7 linked regions of the Homo sapiens genome follow. The protein of the gene in region 1 purifies or fractionates together with the protein of each later gene. This does not show direct contact. Each region holds a gene or a part of one and is shown in the gene's direction. Other genes may lie near its edges.

Region 1 (3,500 bases):
GGAGTGCAGTGGTGCGATCTTGGCTCACTGCAACCTCTGCTTCCTGGATTCAAGTGATTCTCATGCCTCAGCCTCCCAAGTAGCTGGGACTACAGGTGCATGCCACCATGCCTGGCTAATTTTTATATATTTTGTAGAGACGAGGCTTCACTATGTTGCCCATGCTGGTCTTGAACTCCTGGGCTCAAGCAATCCAACCACTTCAGCCTCCCAAAGTGCTGGGATTACAGGTGTGAGCCACCATGTCTGGCCCTTTTATTCACTTTTTAATCCAATAATTAGAATTTTTTCCTATAGAGTTGTTTGAGCTCCTTATATAGTCTGGATTTTGTTTTGTTTTGTTTTTGAGATGGAGTCTCATTCTGTCACCCAGGCTGGAGTGCTATGGGGCAATCCCAGCTCACTGCAACCTCTGCCTCCCAGGTTCAAGCGATTCTTGTGCCTCAGCCTCCCAAGTAGCTGGGATGCCAGGTGTGCACCACCATGCCTGGCTGTTTGTTTTGTATTTTTAGTAGAGATGGGGTTTAGCCATGTTGGCCAGGCTGGTCTCGAACTCCTGACCTCAGGTGATCTACCTGCCTCAGCCTCCCAGAGTGCTGGGATTACAGACGTGAGCCACCGCGCTGGCCTGTATTCTGGTTATTAATCCCTTGTCAGGTGGATAGTTTGCCCAGTCAGTGGATTGTCTCTTCACTTTGTTGTTTCCTTTGCTGTGCAGAAGCTTTTTAACTTGATGTGCTCCCATTTGTCCATTTTTGCTTTGGTTACCTTTGCTTGTGGGATATTAAGAAATTTTGCCCAGATCTATGACCTGGAGTTTTCTCAGTGTTTTCTTGTAGTTTTGTAGTTGGAGGTCTTAGTTTTTTAATCCATTTTGGTTTGATTTTTGTATATAGCACAAGATAGGGGTCTAGTTTCATTCTTCTGCATATGGAGATCAAGTTTTTCCAGCACCATTTATTGAAGAGACTGTCTTTTCCCTAGTGTATGTTCGTGGCACGTTTGTCGAAAATGAGTTCACTGTACGTGTGTGGAATTGTTTCTGGGTTCTCTATTCTGTTCCATTGGTCTCTGTGTCTGTTCTTATGCCATTACTATAGTGTTGTGGTTGCTATAGGTCCATAGTATAATTTGAAGTTAGGTAATGTGATTCCTCTAGGTTTGTTTTGTGTTTTTTTTGTTGTTTTTTTTTGTTTGTTTTGCTGTTTTGTTTGGGATAGCTTTAGCTATCCTAGATCTTTTGTGGTTTCATAACAATTTTAGGATTTTTTTTTCTATTTCTGTGAAGAATGTCATTGGTATTTTTCTTTTTTTTATATTTATATTTGTCATTGGTATTTTGATAGGGATAGCTTTTCTTTTGATGCTTCTGTCCCCATTAATCACAGTTATGTATCTAAAATCTGTATCATTGGTCTGCAAAGTTGTGCTCACCTCAGTAAAATTTTTGAACATGTATTCCCCAATGTTATTTATAAATATTTTATTTTGAGACAAAGGTTCATTCTGTTTCTCAGGCTGGAATGCAGTGGTGCAGTTTTGGCTCACTGCAACCTCTGTCTCCTGGATTCAAGCAATTCTTGTGCCTCAGCCTCCCAAGTAGCTGGGATTCCAGGCATGCACCACCACACCCGGCTAATTTTTGTATTTTTAGTAGAGATGGGGTTTCACCACATTGGCCAGGCTGGTCTCAAACTCCCAACCTGAGGTGATTCACCCGCCTTAGCCTCCCAAAGTGCTGGGATTACAGGCTATAAATGTTATTATACATACACACTTCCACTAATAATACAATGTGTATTATAACTAATTGTGATGTAGTGAAACAAAAGTCTGCTTCTTAGCTGAGTATGATTTTGTCTTGAAGGGCTGTCATACATAACTGAGGGATTGTAGAGAAGTGCATTGTTGATAGGTGGTCTCAAGTACTTTAATTTTTCATTATGCTCCATTAGTTATGGAGCGGCTTTTTTTCAAGTCCAGTTAGTGAGTTTTCATCTCCAGTTGTCAAACAGGTGTTCCTACAAACCTTTCAGAAGAAATTAATTTTTTCTATTTTCACCAATTGAGTTTGTAACCCTCTGAAAAATGTAGATTTGGAAGAGTTTTAAATGCATTACAATATTCTGTTTCCACATTTTTAAAGTGTGTGATTGCAATTTTTATAGGAGACATGTTTTCAGCAGTGCCATATGTAGATATAATCAGTTTTCTTTTCACAACCTTCACAGAACAAGTTTTTTTTTTTTCAAAAAACAATTGTCTTCCTCAAACTATTAAAATGTTGCTTTTGTTTGGAAGACACAGATTAAGCGTATTTATTTTTAAAAATGTCTACTGGGTTACATAAAAAGATTGGCAAATTTGGAATATTTTTCTTTTTGTGAAAAGTGCATGGATCATCTTTAGGTTCTACAGCTTTTGCTCTGTCGCCCAGGCTGGAGTGCAGTGGCGCCATCTCGGCTCACTGCAACCTCCACCTCCTGGGTTCAAGCAATTCTTGTGCCTCAGCCTCCTGAGTAACTGGGATTACAGGCATACACCACTCTGCCCGGCTAATTTTTTGTGTTTTTAGTAGAGACGGGGTTTCACGACGTTTGTCAGGCTGGTCTTGATCTCCTGACGTCGGGTGATCTGCCCACCTCGACCTCTCAAAGTGCTGGGATTACAGGCATGAGCCACCTTGCCAGCCTGGTTCTACAACTTTTAAAAATACTAACCCATTAGATAACCAGCATACTTTTATAACTACTCTCTATCTTTGGCAGAATATTCAGTGTCATCTATGAATCCGCTTAACTAAGCAAACATAAACAGTTAAATAGTCGTCTAAATAAACAAGTGAGACCACCACTTGCAAGCCCTATCTGCCGTATTCCTCCCTTGAGATATCTGGCTCACTGTATCTGACACACAACTATTTACTTTATAGACAGAGTCAAGGCACCAATGTCAGTGTACAAGAAAAGTAGTAATGATGTTAAATTTTTTAAGGAAAAAGAGATATGTGGAAGTTTTGAATATTTTCTTCCTACACTTCAGCGGATACCCTTGAAGTGTAAACACCCCACTCTAGAGAACAACATGGAACATCGCTGTAGCCCTTTTTTTTTTTAAGATGGAGTCTTGCTCTGTTGCCCAGGCTGGAGTGCAGTGGCGTGATCTCGGCTCACTGCAAGTTCCGCCTCCTGGGTTCACACCATTCTCCTGCCTCAGCCTCCCGAGTAGCTGGGACTATAGGCGCCCGCTAACATGCCTGGCTAATTTTCCATGTGCCCCTACACAGTTTTACGTAATCATTCTAACATAACTTACAGATATAACACTTTAAAACCCTCTATGACTTTCACTATCAAATTAATGCACCATCCTGGGCTATTGTGTGGTAGTACAGGTTGATGTCATGTGTCATCTCCAATGAGAGATCACTGGAGGAAGAGATTTTTACCTATTCTGTCACATGGAATCTAGCATGATTTTAGAAAATGTAAACGAATGAA
Region 2 (3,022 bases), on another chromosome or scaffold:
TGTGCACTTACACAGAACTTTCTGTCTTTCTCAGGGGTCTCCTGAAAGTGGCTGAGGTCAGCAGCCGCTTTGAGGATGTTCGAACCTTTCTGCGGGCTGTGACCAAGCTAGGCTTCAAGATTGTCTCCAAGGTGAGGGCCCCAAGACATCTGTACCTGTTTTTGTCTCATGTGGCCCTATTCAGGGTACTGGTGTTCAGGAAGGAGGCTTTAGGCACAGGAACAGACATTTTGCTCCCCAACGGAAGTGGGAGCCCTGGGAAGCTTTGTGAGCAGAGGCAGTACATAGAGGGAGGTGTTTTAAGGAGTTGGGATGAGGATTTGGTTCTCACTGGGTCTTTTCTGCCCCTAGGACCTGACCAACAGCCATTTCTTCTTGTTTGATTTCCAAAAGACTGGGCCCCCTCTGGTAGGGCCCAAGGCTCAGCTTTCAGGCCTGCAGCTTCAGCCATGTCTCTACAAGCGCAGGTGACCTCTGGATCTTCCTTGAAAGGGGAGGCAGATCTCAAACTCCAGGCTCAGAACTGTGAAGACTGTTTCCAGCCTGGCTGTGAGCCAAGACCTGGTTCCTGGTGGACCCTGAGGACAAAGTGTGATAAAACCTCTGGCTCAGACTTGCTCTACTGAAGGCTTCTTGGTTATAAGATGCATAAAGTCACTGGGGCTAGCTAAACAATAAAGAGTTTATTGTGAGAACATGGGGATATCTGTCTCATGACACTTCAGGTGTTATGAAAACTAGATGGTTTGGAATTCAAGGCATCTTTAGGTTTTGCTCTTCTTTCCAACTAAGAAGCCACATGGCCTTCCTGTCCTGCCATCTCCACTCTGCTGTCATCTGATCTGTCTACAGATCAGCTTCCTCTGCTCACCCATAGCTTCTGCTCCTTCAGCTTCAGTTTGCCCAGGCCTTCAAGGTTGCAGACAGGCAGCTGTTGCTGTTTGACTCTGAGGCAACTGGTTGTCCACCAACATCTTGGCTCAAGACATCAGTCTGAGCCACCAACTTGAGACTGTTTGGTTGTCCCCATACCGAGCATTTCTAGTGGTTTATCTTTCCCCTCTCCCCTCATCTCCATTTTTGGAACCATATAGCATCAAGCCACTCCCAACACCTATTGTCCTGTGGGACTTTGGGATGTATATAGCTGAGAGCACAGATTTTGGAATCAGGTAGACCTGGATTTAATTCTTGGCCTGCTACCCAGAGGCACTTAAAGTCATTTAATCTCTGTATATCACATTCCTCATTTGGAAAATGGTAGAATTTTTGTCTTGCAGGGTGGTTGTGTGGGTTAACTGGAGAAATCTGTAGCCAGGGCTGGGAACATAGGAGGTGCTCAGTAAACTAGCTATGACTATTATGTGTTGTAAGCCTTATTGTTTTTTGAAGATCTTCCCTAGGCTGGTTGGAGGCTGAGGGGTAAAGAATGGATTTGTTGACTAAGGAAGCCTCTGGGAGAGGCTAGACCTTTCAACAGGCCTGCTTCATAGGCTATTTAATGACTTTTAATAGATTCTGAGCTTCTGTCCTTGGAGGGGTAGTGAGGGAGCTGGGTCTCTGTTCATAAACAACTTGTTGATGCCATGTGGGCTTGGGGGCATTGGGCTGTTCATTGGCGGAAGAGTCTGTCCACTATCTCTGCCTTGCAGTGGACTCAGATCAGCATGTCCTGGGAAAGCTATAGGCAAGGTGCTGAGGGAAGGTGAGTTTGAATGATAGATTCTAGGCCTCCCCCAAAAGGTATCTGCCATGTGCCCAGGTATAAAGATATGGCCTCTTGTACTTGTTTCCAGGAATACCTGACAGTACCCATTGGGAGATCATAGGTTCTATGCCCTGAGCCAGTTGGATGCCTCTAATAAGGGGATGGAGGTTTTGAAACAGGCTGTAGTCCAGAGGGCATGTTTGGAGGCTGGGCTGTGAATCATTAGGCAGGCACTACACAGTGCCTCTACACGTACTGTTCTTTCTGCTGGATATTCATCGGACTGGCAGTTTGCTCATCTTTCCGAACAGCCTAGTTGTTTCCTATTCTACTCCCAAAGCAAAATCAGTTCTTCATCTGTACTCTCAAAGTACTATGTGAAGAGTGCTACTTCAGCTTCTAAATATTGCATTGTGATTCCTTTGTGCATTTGGCTGCTGTTTTCTCAAGCCATGTTTATCTTTGTATTCCCGGAGCTTGTCATTTGAGATATAGCCAGTGTACTTATTCACCTAGGGAGAGATAAGGAATGACAGGGTCCAGTTGAGTGGGATAGATGAGAACAGGGGTGTTATAGAAACCCAGGTACTAGGGCACAAGATGAGGGCACTGTTGACTAGTCATGATGGAAGAAGTAGGCAGACAGGAGAACTTCATTAGGTAGAATTGGTGGGATGTTGAGGTTGGTAAGAGAGGAATCTGAAGTAAGTTCCAGGTTGCTCAACTGTGGGTAGGCTGGTGATGCCATTCAAAGTGTTGGATTTTAGGAAGTGGGACATGCGTGAAATCTGTGCTGGGGGTCTGGGAATCAGCAGCCTAGAGGTGGTAATTAAAGTCAGAATAGATGAGATATTCAGGGTAAGATAATGAGAAGAGAAAATGGCTCAGAATAGAACTGAGGAGCATGTCATGGATGGGTAAAGGAAAATGAAGCAGTGAAGGTGATGGAAGAGGAGAAGGTTCACCCAGAGATGTAGGAGTAAAACCAGGAGAGTTAATTTTTTTTTTTTTTTTTTTTTAAGACAGAGTCTTGCTCTGTGGCCCAGGCTGGAATGCGGTGGCGTGATCTCAGGTCACTGAAACCTCTGCCTGCTGGTTCAAGCACTTCTCCTGCCTCAGACTCCCGAGTAGCTGGGAATACAGGCACATGCCACCACGCCCAGCTAATTTTTGTATTTTTAGTAGTGACGGGGTTTCACCATGTTGGCCAGGCTGGTCTCGAACTCCTGACCTCGAGTGATCGGCCTGCCTCGGCCTCCCAAAGTGCTGGGATTACAGGCATGAGCCACTGTGCCCAGCCAGTGTTTTTTTTTT
Region 3 (2,866 bases), on another chromosome or scaffold:
GGAGAATCCACTGCTGGTACCACTGGAGGAAAAGGCAGTACTGCAGGAAGAACAAGCCAACCTGTGGTTCTCAAAGGTAAGGAGAGGCCGGGGGCAAGACTGCGGGGAGATGAGTCTTCCTTGGGAGAAGGGCAGCTGATGTTCTCCTATCACAGGGCAGCTTTGCTGGGATCGAGGACGATGCCGATGAGGCCCTGGAGATCAGTCAGGCCCAGCTGTTATTTGAGAACCGGCGGAAGGGACGGCAGCAGCAGCAGAAGCAGCAGCTGCCACAGACACCCCCTTCCTGTTTGAAGACTGAGATAATGTCTCCCCTGTACCAAGATGAAGCCCCTAAGGGAACAGAGGCTTCTTCGGGGACAGAAGCTGCCACTGGCCTTGAAGGGGAAGAAAAGGATGGCATCTCAGACAGTGATAGCAGTACTAGCAGTGAGGAAGAAGAGAGGTGAGTAGTTGCAGCTGAGAGAAGGGATGGAAAGGAAGCGGTGGCTTGAACCATTTCTCTAAATTGGGGGTTCTTAATCTTGGCTGCACATGGGGAGGGTTAAAAATACTGTACTGACGATCCTGATTTAACTGGTCTGGGGTACAGCCTGCATGGCAGGATTTTTGCAAATTCCGTGGGAGTGCGGTCTGAGTAGTACAGAGTGGTGGAATCACTCAGAGTCCTCCCCTCTTCACAGCTGGGAACCCCTCCGTGGTAAGAAGCGAAGCCGTGGGCCTAAGTCAGATGATGACGGGTTTGAGATAGTGCCTATTGAGGACCCAGGTGAGAGCTCTGTATGCAGTGGAATGAGAAAAGACCACTGGAAGTCTCAGTATTGGGAATTGAGCTTTGACCTTTCTCCTTCCCTCTCTAGCGAAACATCGGATACTGGACCCCGAAGGCCTTGCTCTAGGTGCTGTTATTGCCTCTTCCAAAAAGGCCAAGAGAGACCTCATAGATAACTCCTTCAACCGGTAAAGGGGCCATAAACTCATCAAGAGTGACCCAGGGTCTGGTGGGTAAATGGGTAATTTTTTGTTTTTGAGATGGAGTCTCGCTCTGTTGCCCAGGCTGGAGTGCAATGGCACGATCTTGGCTCACTGCAGCCTGATTCTCCTTGAATCGCTTGAGTCAGCCTTCTGAGTAGCTGGGATTACAGGTGCCAACCACCACGCCCAGCTAATTTTTGTATTTTTAGTAGAGATGGGGTTTCACCATGTTGGCCAGGCTGGTCAAACTCCTGACCTCAGGTGATCTGCCCACCTCAGCCTCCCAAAGTGCAGGGATTACAGGCGTGAGCCACCGTGCCCAGTCTGGTAATTTCTTTAGAAAGCCTGGAATGTTGGATATTAGACAGATGTCCTTTCCACTCAGGTACACATTTAATGAGGATGAGGGGGAGCTTCCGGAGTGGTTTGTGCAAGAGGAAAAGCAGCACCGGATACGACAGTTGCCTGTTGGTAAGAAGGAGGTGGAGCATTACCGGAAACGCTGGCGGGAAATCAATGCACGTCCCATCAAGAAGGTGGCTGAGGCTAAGGCTAGAAAGAAAAGGAGGGTAAGTGATGGGGCCTCCAGAGATTGGGTGGGGTGGGGGTGGGGGGATGGGGAAGAGGTCACCTGACAGGTTCCTTTGCAGATGCTGAAGAGGCTGGAGCAGACCAGGAAGAAGGCAGAAGCCGTGGTGAACACAGTGGACATCTCAGAACGAGAGAAAGTGGCACAGCTGCGAAGGTAATGGGAGGACACCACAAAGGTACACAGGGCTAAAAGTGCAGCAGAAAGCAAGCCTCTAACCTCTTCTCTTCCCCCCTGTAGTCTCTACAAGAAGGCTGGGCTTGGCAAGGAGAAACGCCATGTCACCTACGTTGTAGCCAAAAAAGGTGTGGGCCGCAAAGTGCGCCGGCCAGCTGGAGTCAGAGGTCATTTCAAGGTGGTGGACTCAAGGATGAAGAAGGACCAAAGAGCACAGCAACGTAAGGAACAAAAGAAAAAACACAAACGGAAGTAAGCAGAGCTGCCAGGCTCCCAGGAGAGCATGGGGACTAGGAGGAAGGGTGTGGCATGGCTCAGTCTGGCCCCCTTGATTACCGGCCTAGCCCCTGCTCACATCACAGCTGTCTGAAGAACAGTGAGGTGGAGTGCCTAGAACTCCCGTGGTGGTCCTGAGCAGAGAGGAGGATGTCCTCCTGCCTGCCTGAAGGTCTCCCATGAAAACACTGCTGAACTGTGTTGACACTCATGACCCTTTTTTTAAACCGTTAAAGGGAAGTTCGGTGTTGGAGCGATACTCAATGTAGTCAGTCTACACCTGGACGTGTGGGCCACTTAAGCCCTCCCCACCCCCATCCTATTCCTGAATAAAACCAGGATAATGGAAGAGTTGTCTTTTCTGACAGTTTTAATAAGCACTTCCCTATCTGTCCCTACACTGTGTGCGGCACTATTCTTAATATGTACCAATTCATAGACAGAAATGACAAACGATCCACAGGTCCCGGTAGTAAAACATTTACTAGAGAGCAAGCAGAAAGGAATGCACATCTTAAAGAAACCTTCACAAAGTCACAAAAGTCAAAGTTTGTATATTTCTTTTCCTTTTTATAAACGATAAACAAAAATCATCAAAATCATTTCAGCAAAAGACTTTTCTATCATTGGGGCAAGTTAAAAAAAATACAATGAGATAGAAGACACTTTAAAAGCTGTTGTTGGGTTTCTTGTTTAATTTTAAATTTAGCAATACCATCTCAAACCTGGAGCAATCCTGGAACAGTTACCAGGATCACCTTTTCCCTTCAATCCTTGTGGCTTCTGGGAATCTTCAGAGCCTGGGTCTGAAAGGTGTTTCCTACATGTCTCAGGGCTGGATGCAAACCT
Region 4 (3,500 bases), on another chromosome or scaffold:
AAGGATGAACCTTGAAAATCTTAAGCTGAATGAAATAATCCAGACACAAAGGGACAAATACTGTCTGATTTCACTTACCTGAGATATCTAGCTAGGCAAATTCACAGAGACAGAAATAGATTATAGATTACTTAGGGCTAGGGGAAGGGGGGTTATAGGAAATTATTAGTGGTTGCAGAGCTTCTGTTTTCAATGATGTCAGTGAGTAGCCTCCTGATAGGAGTTTTGGAAACAGATAGTGGTGATGGTTGTACAATGTTGTGAATGTAAGTAATGCCACTGAATTGTATACTTAAGATTGGGTAAAATGGCAGCCTTTGTTTTATATGTGTATATATAACCACAATAAAAATAATTTTAAAAAAGTTAGGAGATATTTAATACAGATTTCCTCTCCATCTCCCTTTAAAAAAGACCCAAAACACTTATAAGTTCACATTGTTCTATGCCTCGCCTTTTCACTTAATTTTGAAGCTTAGAGATATGTTTTATATAGGCCCACATATGCTGCCCTTTTTGTTTTTTGTTTTCAGACGGAGTCTTGCTCTGTCACTGAGGCTGGAGTGCAGTGGCGCAATCTCGGCTCACTGCAAGCTCTGCCTCCTGGGTTCACCCCATTCTCCTGCCTCAGCCTCCTGAGTAGCTGGGACTACAGGTGCCTGCCACCGCACCTGGGTAATTTTTTGTATTTTTAGTAGAGATGGGATTTCACCGTGTTAGCCAGGATGGTCTCGATCTCCTGACCTCGTGATCCGCCTGCCTTGGCCTCCCAAAGTGCTGGGATTACAGGTGTGAGCCACTGCACTCGGCCCCCTTTTTGTTTTTTTTAATGGCTTCATGTTCTTCCATCATATGAGTAGATTGTTGAGGGACATTGAGGTTGTTTACAATCATTTGTCATCCAGCCTGGGCAGCATGGCAAAACCCCATCTCTACTAAAAATCAAAAAATTAGCCAGACATGGTGGTGCATGCCTATAGTCCAACTACTTGAGAGGCTGAGGTAGGAGGATCACCTGAGCCTGGGGAGGTCAAGGTTGCAGTGAGCTAAGATTCTGCCACTGAACTGCAGCCTGGGCGGCAGAATGAGACCCCGACTCAAACCACCACCACCAACAACAAAAAACCCAAAAAATAATCATTTGTCATTACAAACAAGTGATGTAGGGAATAACCTTGCACATATGCCCTTTTACAATTAAGCAAGTGTATATTTGGCTTGCAGGATTAATTCCTAAAAGTGGAATAGTGGGTCAGAGGATATTTGTATTTCTAGTTTTGTTAGAGGTTGCAAAATTTCCCTCCTAGAGGGTATACCAGCAGTTTTAGAAATGCTGTCTATATTTGATGGGACAAAATAAGGGTGTATATAACTTAAATTTCTGATAAAAATAGAGTTATAACTGTATTGGTGGGTAAAGTAGTAAAGTGACCTAAATCTTCATCCTTCATAGCAGGAGGTTTGTAATGAGTATCTTAAGTGGATTGAGAAATAGTCAAAAAAGCATGTTATTTAGTGAGATGGAGGTAATCAGTGGAAGAAGTGCTTGCGGCTTTTCTTTTCTTTTTTTTTTTTGAGGCAGGGTCTCGCTCTGTCGCCCAGGCTGGAGTGCAGTGGCGCGATCTCAGCTCACTGCAGCCTCCCCTTCCTAAGTTCAAGCAATTCTCTCACCTCAGCCTCCCAAGTAGCTGGGATTACAGGTGCACCACCATGCCCAGCTAATTTTTGTATTTTTAGTAGTCGGGGTTTCACCATGTTGGCCATGCTGATCCCAAACTCCTGACCTCAGGTGATCCACCCACCTCAGCCTCCCAAAGTGCTGAGACTACAGGCACGAGCTACTGCACTCGGCCAAGAAGTGCTTGCCGCTTTTCATTTTAATCTGCTAACTTACCAATTGAAAACGTGCACTTCTTATCGTAAGCTTAAAAAAAGATAAAATCATCCCTGAAATCTTATGCTTTCTTCTCATCCCAGTTGCCAAAGCTCTGCAGGAATTTGACTTGGCCTTAAGAGGAAAGAAGAAAAGGAAGAAGTTTATGAAGGATGCCAAAAAAAAGGGGGAGATGACAGTGAGTGGCCTCCCTTTTGGAGTTTGGGCCCACTCGGTGGGGTGGGTCAGAGTGGCCTGGTGTGTTCCACACTCACACCTCCCCACTCCCCCTAGGCAGAGGAAAGGTCTCAGTTTGAAATCCTCAAGGCGCAGATGTTTGCTGAACGGCTAGCGAAGAGGAATCGCAGAGCCAAGCGGGCCCGAGCAATGCCCGAGGAGGAGCCAGTGAGAGGTCCTGGTAGGTGAATGGGGAGCCCAAAGGAGCTTGTACAAGGTTTTCCCTGAAACCTGTGCTTTGGGTCAGGGAGAAAATCTGAGGGATGATGACAGTAGCCCACATTATTTGAGTAATTAGTATGTACCAATGTGTACAGCTATCCCTCCACGGTCTAAGGGGCGCAGTGACCTTGTGGTTGTTGAGAACTAGGATTTGAACGCCAGCTTTTCTGACTCCGGAGCCTAAGGCCTCACCAGCTGCTACTTGGAGGAGCTGGTGAGGACAGAATGAAAATAGTCTTTGGATGCCAGAGTATCCACTGAACTTGGAATCATTACCTTGAACTTAAGGGGATTTAGGAGCTTGGGCCAAAGACAACCATATGTAACCCATTCTCTCTGTGCACAGCCAAGAAGCAAAAGCAGGGGAAGAAATCTGTATTTGATGAAGAACTCACCAACACAAGCAAGAAGGCCCTGAAACAGTATCGAGCTGGGTAGGATTTTAAGTCATCATGGAGCCCTTGGTATTCTTTTTTTTTTTTTTTTTTTTTTTGAGACGGAGTCTCGCTCTGTCGCCCAGGGTGGAGTGCAGTGGTGCATCTTAGCTCACTGCAAGCTCCACCTCCTGGGTTCAAGCAATTCTCCTGCCTCAGTCTCCCAAGAAGCTGGGACTATAGGCGCACGCCACCATGCCCAACTAATTTTTGTATTTTTAGTAGAGATGGGGTTTCACCATGTTTGCCAGGATGGTCTCGATCTCTTGACCTCCTGATCCACCCGCCTCAGCCTCCCAAAGTGCTGGGATTACAGGCTTGAGCCACCGTGCCCGGCGAGCCCTTGGTATTCTAATGGAAGCTATGAGTCTTCTGCCTCCTTCCCCATTTCCAGTTTTTGCACACCTATAGCTTTATACTATGTAAATTCAAGGGTACCTGTCTGTTCTCCACCCCCCACCCCTCTCAGAGCCACCTGAGGATCCCAAGGTGAGAACAGGAGAGGGGTGTTCAGTTAGCACTGTTCCTGCCTTGGAGGTGAAATAGTACATTGTTGGGTTCAGAAATGGAGCTTTCCTTCAGGGGAGTGATAACTCTTTCATCTCAAGTTCCATCCTGCAGAACCCCAGAGAATCCTGGCTTGCTCTTAGGAATATGTTGTCCCACACCATTTTCCCCAGCCCAAGGTTGGGGCAGGGGCAGACTAAGCTTCCCAAGTAGTGGTATATACCTAA
Region 5 (3,318 bases), on another chromosome or scaffold:
TTTGTTAAATTAATTTTTTCTCTTTGTCTCTCTTCTTTCTCCCTTTCTCCCTTTAGTGTATATTTTTCTGAACTGTTTAAGCATGCAAAATACTTCTTGGTCCCTAGTTTAATATGTATTTCCAGAAATAAGAGCATTCTCACATAACCACACTGCAATTATTAAAATCAAGAAATTAACATTGATAGACTATTATTACCTAATCTTAGTCCTATTCATATTTCTCCAATTGTCCCAGTAATATCCTTTATAGCAAAATTTGTAAGAATAGTACATGTCATGTCTCTTTAATCTCTTGTAATCTGGAACATTTCCTGAGTTTGTCCTTATATTTCATGATATTGACAGTTTAGAACAATATGGGCCAGGCGTTTGGTATAAAATTTCTTAACTGGATTGTTTGGTGTTTCCTTCAGATTAGGTTTGGATAATGCACATTTGGCAAGAGCACCAGAGATTTGATGCTGAGTTTTTTCAGTGTGTTTTGTCAGGAGACACAAGCTGTCCATTAGTTCCATTACTAGCAGTGTTAACTTTGATCATTAGGTTAAGGTGGTGTCTGCCAGGTTTTTCCACTGAAGAGTTACTGTTTTACTCTTTTTAATTAATAAGTATACTTTTGAGAGATACTTTAAGACTATATAAATATCTTATTATTCTTTAGATCTACAGACTACACTTTAAAGAGCTAGACTAGATCAGAAGTGTCTGAGCTACTGAGCCAGTCTAAATTGCGTTGTGCTGTAAATGTGAAATGAATGCTGGATTTTGAAGACTTAATATGAAAACAAGGATAAAATGTTTCACTAGTAATTTTATATAGATTGCATGTTGAGTGACAGTATTTTGGAAATTTGGGTTAAATAAAATGTATCATTAAATTTCCTCCTGTTCGTTTTTACTTTAAAAAATACGGCTACTAGAAAATTTAAAATTTCATATGTGGTTTGTCTTTCATTGGATAGTACTGATAGAAATTTTAGAGCATAGTTGGACTCAGCCCCCTTTTAGCCAACACTCCTGTAGGCATTTTCTAAAACAGTTGGATTTTTGTGGTTGAGAACTTAGTAGTATTGATTGTTTGGTTCATTCTGCTAATATCATGTGCTGACCATATCCCAGGCACTTTTAAGTGTTCATAACCAGAAAGATGCTGTCTTTATTCATGGAAATTACAAGTTAAGAATGGGATTAGTTGTCAGTAGTCCAAGTTCTCTTTATAGTAAAATTTGAAAAGCATTGGATTGGTTTAAAGTGGAAGGAAAATTTAACAGCAGTAGAGACTTTTGTCAGATAAAAATTAGAGAAATGATACTTGTGAAAGAGAATGTTGAGAGTCATGATGGCCAGGAGTATACACCTTCTTCAGCTTTTTGAGTAGGGATTGTTTTTGTAATGATTTTTTTCATGTAAATTCATTTCTAAATCAGAATAATAAAGAAGTGTTTGTTAATGCAGTTGTTGATCATACCGCTTGAATGTGCATACATTTGCTAACTCATGAATTTTTTTGTAGTTGATGCGATGAAGAGAGTTGAAGAAATCAAACAGAAGCGCCAAGCTAAATTTATAATGAACAGGTATGAATATTTGTATGGAGTAACTTTTGGAAAATAATTACTAGTAGATATTTAGAGGCATTAGTATTTTTTAAAAAAATTTTTTATTTTGACATAACTTCAGACTTACCAAAAACTTCAAGGAATAATATGAAGAACTCTTGTATATTCTGCTAGCATTTTACATTTACTTTATCCTTGTCTCAATGTATTGAAGACATAATGCTTTTTCCTTCTAAGTATACTTAAGTGTGTGTAACCTAAAAATAAGAACATTCTCTTAAATAAACACAGTATGGTTATCTATCAGTCAGGAAATTAACATTGATGTAATACTATTATATAATCTATAAACCTTATTTAGACCTCACCAGTTATTCTGATTACGTCCATAGCAACACAAAGTCCTTCATATTTCTTCAGGCTCCTTTAATCTGGACAGTTTCTCATCTTTCTTTTACGTGACATTGATAGTTTTGAAGACTATAGGTCAAGTTATTGTATAGAACGTTCTTCAATTTGGGTTTGTCTGATACCTTCCTCATTAGATTTTGGCTAGGCACCTTTGGCAGGGATGTCTCAGAAATGATGGCGTATCCTTCTCATGCATCATATCGGGAAGCACATGATGTCACCTTGCTGGTGATGTTAACTTTGATCACTTGATTAAGGTGATGTCTGTCAGGTTTCTCCACTGGAAGATTACTATTTTGTTTTCCTTATAATCAGTACGTATTTTGGGGGAGATACATAGAGATTCAGTAAAAAGCCTATTACTCCTCAAACTTGTACCTACTGGTTTTGGTTTTCATTAGAGTCTTGCCTGAATCAGTTACTACTATTGTTGTGATTGTTGCCAAATGGTGGTTTTTCTAATTCCATCATTTCTTCTACATTTTTTAGTTGATTTTCTCATGTAAGAAAGAGCTTTCCCTTTTCCATCAATTTCAAGATTTATTCCTTTATTCATATTACATCTGTGTGTATTCATGGATTCTTATGGTATACATTGGGTTATAATTCTTTATTGTCATTATTTATTTTGAAGTTCTAAGTGGCCCATATTTGGCCTGTGGGAGTTCCTTCAGGCAGACTGTCATGTCATTTTGACAATTCTCCTCATTCTTTGAGTGCATTCATGTTTTATAGCTAACAAGATGTTTCCTCTTCCCCAGCTTGGAATCAACTATTTTTTTCAGAGCAGGACCATTAGCTTTTAAATTAATTGCTATGGAATATGTCATGGAAAAGAAGCACGTGCCAGCAGCTTTCTGGCTTAAAAATTTTAAAGCATTTCACAAAAATGTTTGAAAACTAGTCTGTTAGCATTTCTATTGAATATCATGTGATTTGTGCTCTTGTAATTACCCAATGGTTTTTTAAAAATTATATAACAGAGACTTATCTATTTGAGGAGAAAAGATCTAGGCACTGTAACAGTTAAAGGTTGTTTTATGTAGTAGAGCACTGCTTCTTTTCATGACTCACATCCTTCATTTACTTAGCAAATATGTATTGAGCTCCCATTTCGTGCCAGTCTAGGTACAAAGAATGAATGAATGAATAAGTGTTGTGGTAGGGTAGGAATCCTATTTTGAGCTAATTACGAACTAAAAAACCACTTTGAGTTTGAGTTGTTAGAGAAGAAAATGTACATTTGTGAGGGCTTAACAGGTGACCTTACCTTAGATTTGGGAATAAATGTAAGGTATATATCTCTTTTAGGTTAAGTTCACCACTTGCCATTTGGGAGTAATGT
Region 6 (3,500 bases), on another chromosome or scaffold:
TATCCTATGTTAGAATTCAAACAAATATTTATCCTAAAAAATGAAATGTTAGGCTAGGCACTGTGGCTCATTCCTGTAATCCCAGCACTTTGGGAGGCCGAGGTGAGTGAATCACCTGAGGTCAGGAGTTTGAGACCAGCCTGACCAACATGGTGAAACCCCCCCATCTCTAATAAAAATACAAAGTTAGCTGGGCGTGGTGGCACATGCCTGTAGTCCTAGCTACTCGAGAGGCTGAGGCATGAGAGTTGATTGATCACAAGAAGGGGAGGCTGCAGTGAGCTGAGATCCTGCCACTGCACTCCAGCCTCAGTGACAGAGGAAAACTCTGTCTCAAAAAAGAAAAAAATAAAGCACTCAGAAATGTAGGAATAGAAATGAACTTTCTTAACACAATAAAGGGAATTTTAAAAAAAGAAAATATAGATTCCAGATTATATAAGTGTGATATAAAAAAACTGATGCAACAAAAACAAAAATGGACAAATGAGATAGCATCAAACTAAAAAGCTTCTCCACAGTAAAGGAAACAATTAACAAAGTGAACAGACAAACCCACAGAGTGGGAGAAAATATTTGCAAGCCATACATCTGATATGGGATTAATATCCAAAATATGTAAGGAACTTAAACAATTCAACAGCAAGAGAACAAATAACTCAATTTTAAAATGTGCAAGCTGTTCCCATAAGTGGCCTGCGGTGATCTGTGAAAATGGTTCACTATTCACTTGACCCAGAAAACTCCATGAAATCATGCAAATAAAGAGGTTCAAATCTTCATGTTCACTCTAAGGACACCCATGAAACTGCCCAGGCCATCAAGAGTACGCCTATATGAAAAGCCAGCAAATGTCTGAAAGATGTCACTGTATGGAAACAATGTGTACCATTCCAACGTTACGAGGGTGGAGTTGGTAGGAGTGCCCAGACCAAACAGTGGGGCTGGGCACGCAGTTTGTGACCCCAAAAGAATTGAATTCTTGCTGTACACACTTAAAAATGCAGAGAGTAATGCTGAACGTAAGGGTTGAGCTGTAGATTCTCTGGTCGTCGAGGATATTCAGGCGCACAAAGCACCCAAGATGTGCCACCAGACTTCCAGAGCTCATGGTTGGATTAACTCATGCCTAAGCTCCCCCTGCCACATAGAGACAATCTTCCTGAAGAAGCACACCGTGTTCCTAAACCAGAAGAGGAGGTGCACAGAAGAAAAAGCTATCCTAGAAGATACTGAAGAAGCAAAAACTTACAGCACGGGAATAAATTCAGCGTAAAATACATGCAAATAAAAGTTTCAAAAATGGGCAAAAGACTTGAATAGACATTTCTCAAAAGAAGAAATACAAATGGCCAATGAGTTCATGAAAAAATGCTCAACATCGCTAATCATCAAGCAAACGCAAATTAAAACCACAATGAGCTGTTGCCTCGCACCGATTAGAATGGGAGGCTGAGGTGGGAAGATTGCTTGAGCCCAGGATATCAAGGCTGCAGTGAGCCAAGATTGCACCACTGCACCCCAGCCTGGGTGACAGAGACCCTGTCTCAAAAACAGCAGCAACAACAACAACAACGAAAAAAAAAAAAAAAAAAGGAGAGAGAGAGAGTTGGATGTACTGACATAGCAAGATTTCTAGGACTAAAGTGGAAAAAAAAGTTGTAGAACAGTTCATATATTATGATCCTATTTATGAACAAGTAAACCACCATAAACCACCATATGCACATATATGTATGTGAATGCATAGAAACAGGTGTGAAAGAATTCCCGCCAGCCATAAACTGTTTTGGGAAGGGGAGTGGGATTGGACGTCGTAGGTCAGTATAGGTAGACTTCCATATTTTACTTTAAATATAGTAGAACATCATTTGCACAGAATATCTAGTATCTGACCTATTCAGGATAAGCAATGTTTCTGGAATTCAAACATCTAACTATAAAATGATAAAAAGAACAAAAACAAAGTAGATGGGAAGTATATTAAACATTTGTTACCACAAGTAAAACAATTCATTTTACTTATTGATTCTTGCATGGAAATAGGAGTTGCAATATCTACTCATGGTCTTTAAAACGACAGAGTAGCTTTCTTAGAAAATATTATTAGTATTTTTTGATACAGAATCTCACTCTGTTGCCCAGGCTGGAGTGCAGTGGTATGATCCTAGCTTACTGCAGCCTCAACTTCCTGGGCTCAATCAATCCTGCCTCAGCTTCCTGAGTAGCTGAGATTACAAGTGCACGCCACCATGCCCGGCTAATTTTTAAATTTTTTGTAGAGATGGAGTCTCCCCATGTTGCCCAGGCTGGTCTCAAATTCCTGGGCTCATGTGATCCACCCGCCTCAACCTCCCATAATGCTGGGATTACAGACATGAGCCACTGCACCTGCCCAGAGTAGCACTTGACAATGATAAAAATAAAAATTTTAACTTGGCAGGAAATTGTTGGTCTGCTGTGTATGGAAGCAGCAATCGTTATCTGAGGTTGTTTTAGAGTTGAGGACGAAGCATCAACTGACTCATCAGTTCCAAGTTTGCTCATTCAGCTCACACTGGGTGAATTGCATGAATTGGGCCACTGTGACATTGTCATTTGGTCATTGCACCCAATGGCTCACACTATCAGCATGAGCTCTGCACTGTAGCAAATATTCCTCAGTCATTTCTATAGGGTTATATACTGTATTTAAGTTCGCCTGCATCATTAACATGTTTTTAAGTGCAAAGGAAAGTTTATAAATATCAGTAAGGTATTATTGACATATGCTTAGTCCACACCCATCTGACTGTATATAACAAATCTTATAAACTGTATACCTTCTTTTATAATATTTCTTAACTTTTCTTTCTGATTCTTTCTAGGAATTTACTTTGCAAAAGATGCCATCTATTCCCACAAAAATTGCCCGTATGATGCCAAAAACGTCGTTATGTTTGTAGCCCAAGTTCTGGTTGGAAAGTTTACTGAAGGAAATATAACGTACACGAGCCCTCCTCCACAGTTCGACAGCTGTGTGGATACCAGATCGAATCCCTCCGTTTTTGTCATCTTTCAGAAAGATCAGGTTTACCCACAATATGTGATTGAATATACTGAAGACAAAGCCTGCGTGATTAGTTAGAACCGATGAATACAGCGTCAGAAGGATGCCATAACCATTCTGTTCCTTTACAGAACTAAATTGCCGCAGACAGGAGTTAAAGTTTTATATTTTCCTGCTCAGTTATCTAATGTCTTAGATCAGTGGTCCCCAAATTTTGCTACATATTAGAATCATCTGGGAGGTTTTAAACAAATTCTGATGCCCAGGTTGCACCCCATGCCAATGAAATCATTTCTGGGCGTCAGCGCCAGGCAGTTGTATTTTTTTTTTTTTTTTTTTTTTTGAGACTGAATCTCACTCCATCGTCCAGGCTGGAGTGCAGTGGCGCGATCTCGGCTCACTGCAACCTCTGCCTCCCGGGTTCAAGCAATTCTCCTGCCTCAGCCTCCCG
Region 7 (2,587 bases), on another chromosome or scaffold:
AAAGTGGGAATTCAGGAACTTGGACCACGTTTTACCTTAAAATTAAGGTCTCTTCAGAAAGGAACCTTTGATTCTAAATATGGAGAGTATGAATGGGTCCATAAGGTATGTGCTTATTGTTTAAAAAGACTAAGTCATTTTTAAAGTATGGGATAAGAGGGTGGGAGGAGAGAGAGCATCAGGAATAGCTAATGGATGCTGGGCTTAATACCTAGGTGATGAAATGATCTGTGCAGCAAACCACTATAGCACGTTTACCTATGTAACAAACCTGTACATCCTGCACATATACCCTTGAACTAAAAAAAAAAAAAAAAAAGATACAATATCTGGGTCTGGTGATTAACCTTGGCTCATCTGAAGTATAAACATTAGTGGTTCTCAAAGCGAGACCAGCACCATTACCTAGGAACCTATTAGGAATGAAAATTCTTTGGCCCACAGACCTACTCGATCAGCAATTTAGGGGGTGGGACCCAGCAGCAATCTGCTTATAAGCCTGTGTTATATGTGACTCTACTACATGTTTCTTGAGAACTATTGATAAGTTTTCTTAGAAGTTTGGAGATCATCATCTTAAATCATAAATGAAAACTTTTTTGTTGTTGTTGTTTTGTTTTTTTTGAGATGAGTCTCAGCTTTGTTGCCCAGGCTGGAGTGCAGGGGCGCCATCTCGACTCACTGCAACCTCCACCTCCCGGGTTCAAGCTATTCTCCTGCCTCAGCCTCCCGAGTAGCTGGGATTACAAGTGTGCACCACCACACCGGCTAATCTTTTCTATTTTTAGTAGAGAAGGGGTTTCCCCGTGTTAGCCAGGATGGTCTTGATCTCCTGACCTCATGATCTGCCTGCCTCAGCCTCCCAAAGTGCTGGGATTACAGGTGTGAGCCACCGTGCATGGCCTAAAACATCCTTTTCTATCTAGTATAAGCAGTACTTCACTTAGTAACATTTTACTTTAAAATCACACACACACAGTAACTGCCAACATCTTTTATATTAGACCGAAGACTGACTATTCGGGGTCTCGCACAAACCCGGTTTTTCAGCACTAGTGTTACTTATGAAGATCTAGGGACGTTAACTTTTACTGTCTTACCTGAATTGTTAATTATATTTTTGTTTTGTTTTCTTCCTCCACTCCCTTGCTTTCCACTTTCAGCCCCGGGAAATGGATACAAGTAGAAGAAAATTCCATTTATAAAGTACTGAGAGAATGATATTGGATTTTGCTGAACAGGCCTATCTTGAACTTTGGTAAATTATTTTTGACAGAATACTCTTTTCAAAATGGCATTTGCTGATTTCATAAACCTTTCACGTCTGGACGAATTACCAAATGCCATGAATTGCCACTGTGTGTTTATGTAGAAAATACAAATAAAAGTTATTTTGATGGCTTAGGTTTCCTTAAACTTAGTTCTCTTGTTTTTGGGTAACTGTGAATAATTAAGTTGGAATCAAGATTCAGATTAACTTTCCTATTTGCATAGAACACATGAGAGGAATAAAATGGTTGGTAAATATTGGCTAACCCTTGATTTTTATACCAGATTAACCTTGGATTCCCAGTGTCTGGCACAGTTTTAATAGCTTAAATGGAGGCCAGGTTTCTGGATGTTTTAACATTCTCTTAAGCCTTCAGAAGGGTAAAAAATTTAAAGCAAAATGATCTACCAGGGTTTAAAGCAAAGTTGCAAATTACTGAAGCTAATCTTTGCTTCCTGATTTTGAGGTTTTTGGTTTTTTGTGCCCACGTTGTGGGGAGCTCTTTTTTACCTCATTACATGGTGCTGTAGTACTCCATTCAGGCACTGAAACAAAGTTAACCCTATAAGTAACTCATGGATGGAAACCCGTAGAACTTAACAGCCTCCTCCTGACCTTAAAAGAATAAAGGTTCACAGTTTACCTTTAATTCCCTAGCAGTCTTGCCAGATGTATGGCATAAAGTCATGTGAGAAGAGTAGGTGGAAAAAACTGTACAAACTTAACCCCTTCAGGTGTTCAGAACAGATTAATATACCATGTATTTAATACCAATAATAATGCAAAATAAAAGTTTCATACTAAGTTTTATTGTATGCTGCTGCCAGTGTATATAAAACAATTACCCTTGTGAAATAGAAATTCATGAAAATTCAGAGAGGTAGATGTTAAGGACTGACGAAAGTAGAAGTTTGTATATTATGGCACATGTGTTACAGGGATAAGCTTTTGTACAGGCTTCAAATGTAGCTCTCTTGAATATTCACTGGATCATAAGGAGTGGTTTGGGAAACCTAAGATGGGGAAAAAAAAAAAAAGGTGAGTTAGGGTAAAGTATCAAAGAACATAGTTTTTAATTTTTTTCATGAATAACTTAAAAGAAGCAGGATGGGAAATGCCTATGGTCCAGTAACAGTAAAATCTTTCCCTTAATTTTCACAACCACTCTGATGTATAAGTCATTCCTGTTTTATAAACAGACTTACAGATTAACTTGCTAAGATTACTGCCAAAATACATTCTGTATATAATAAAAAAGGTTAATAAAACTCTCTTAAATCAAAAATCCAAACATCCTTAGAAAAATGAGCAAGACTA

Evidence for each region.
Region 2: the proteins of MAK16 (region 1) and RRP8 purify together in Homo sapiens (affinity purification with mass spectrometry; 2 studies listed by BioGRID and IntAct, with this or other methods). This does not show direct contact.
Region 3: the proteins of MAK16 (region 1) and FTSJ3 purify together in Homo sapiens (affinity purification with mass spectrometry; 3 studies listed by BioGRID and IntAct, with this or other methods). This does not show direct contact.
Region 4: the proteins of MAK16 (region 1) and DDX27 purify together in Homo sapiens (affinity purification with mass spectrometry; 2 studies listed by BioGRID and IntAct, with this or other methods). This does not show direct contact.
Region 5: the proteins of MAK16 (region 1) and RSL24D1 purify together in Homo sapiens (affinity purification with mass spectrometry; 2 studies listed by BioGRID and IntAct, with this or other methods). This does not show direct contact.
Region 6: the proteins of MAK16 (region 1) and ZC3HAV1 purify together in Homo sapiens (affinity purification with mass spectrometry; 2 studies listed by BioGRID and IntAct, with this or other methods). This does not show direct contact.
Region 7: the proteins of MAK16 (region 1) and RPF1 purify together in Homo sapiens (affinity purification with mass spectrometry; 2 studies listed by BioGRID and IntAct, with this or other methods). This does not show direct contact.

The regions. Positions count from the first base shown.
Region 1 is NC_000008.11:33,491,682-33,495,181, forward strand, and holds part of MAK16 (protein MAK16 homolog), read left to right. Parts: intron 1-3,500.
Region 2 is NC_000011.10:6,597,595-6,600,616, reverse strand, and holds part of RRP8 (ribosomal RNA-processing protein 8), read left to right. Parts: intron 1-34; coding exon 35-131; intron 132-351; coding exon 352-471; 3' UTR 472-3,022.
Region 3 is NC_000017.11:63,818,933-63,821,798, reverse strand, and holds the end of FTSJ3 (pre-rRNA 2'-O-ribose RNA methyltransferase FTSJ3), read left to right. Parts: coding exon 1-76; intron 77-155; coding exon 156-445; intron 446-683; coding exon 684-769; intron 770-860; coding exon 861-960; intron 961-1,360; coding exon 1,361-1,544; intron 1,545-1,625; coding exon 1,626-1,720; intron 1,721-1,804; coding exon 1,805-1,997; 3' UTR 1,998-2,366; downstream 2,367-2,866.
Region 4 is NC_000020.11:49,239,916-49,243,415, forward strand, and holds part of DDX27 (probable ATP-dependent RNA helicase DDX27), read left to right. Parts: intron 1-1,977; coding exon 1,978-2,072; intron 2,073-2,167; coding exon 2,168-2,291; intron 2,292-2,678; coding exon 2,679-2,766; intron 2,767-3,500. UniProt on the Homo sapiens protein: Probable ATP-dependent RNA helicase. Component of the nucleolar ribosomal RNA (rRNA) processing machinery that regulates 3' end formation of ribosomal 47S rRNA.
Region 5 is NC_000015.10:55,183,624-55,186,941, reverse strand, and holds part of RSL24D1 (probable ribosome biogenesis protein RLP24), read left to right. Parts: intron 1-1,516; coding exon 1,517-1,580; intron 1,581-3,318. UniProt on the Homo sapiens protein: Involved in the biogenesis of the 60S ribosomal subunit. Ensures the docking of GTPBP4/NOG1 to pre-60S particles.
Region 6 is NC_000007.14:139,047,221-139,050,720, reverse strand, and holds part of ZC3HAV1 (zinc finger CCCH-type antiviral protein 1), read left to right. Parts: intron 1-2,867; coding exon 2,868-3,127; 3' UTR 3,128-3,500.
Region 7 is NC_000001.11:84,496,266-84,498,852, forward strand, and holds the end of RPF1 (ribosome production factor 1), read left to right. Parts: coding exon 1-105; intron 106-1,163; coding exon 1,164-1,205; 3' UTR 1,206-2,087; downstream 2,088-2,587.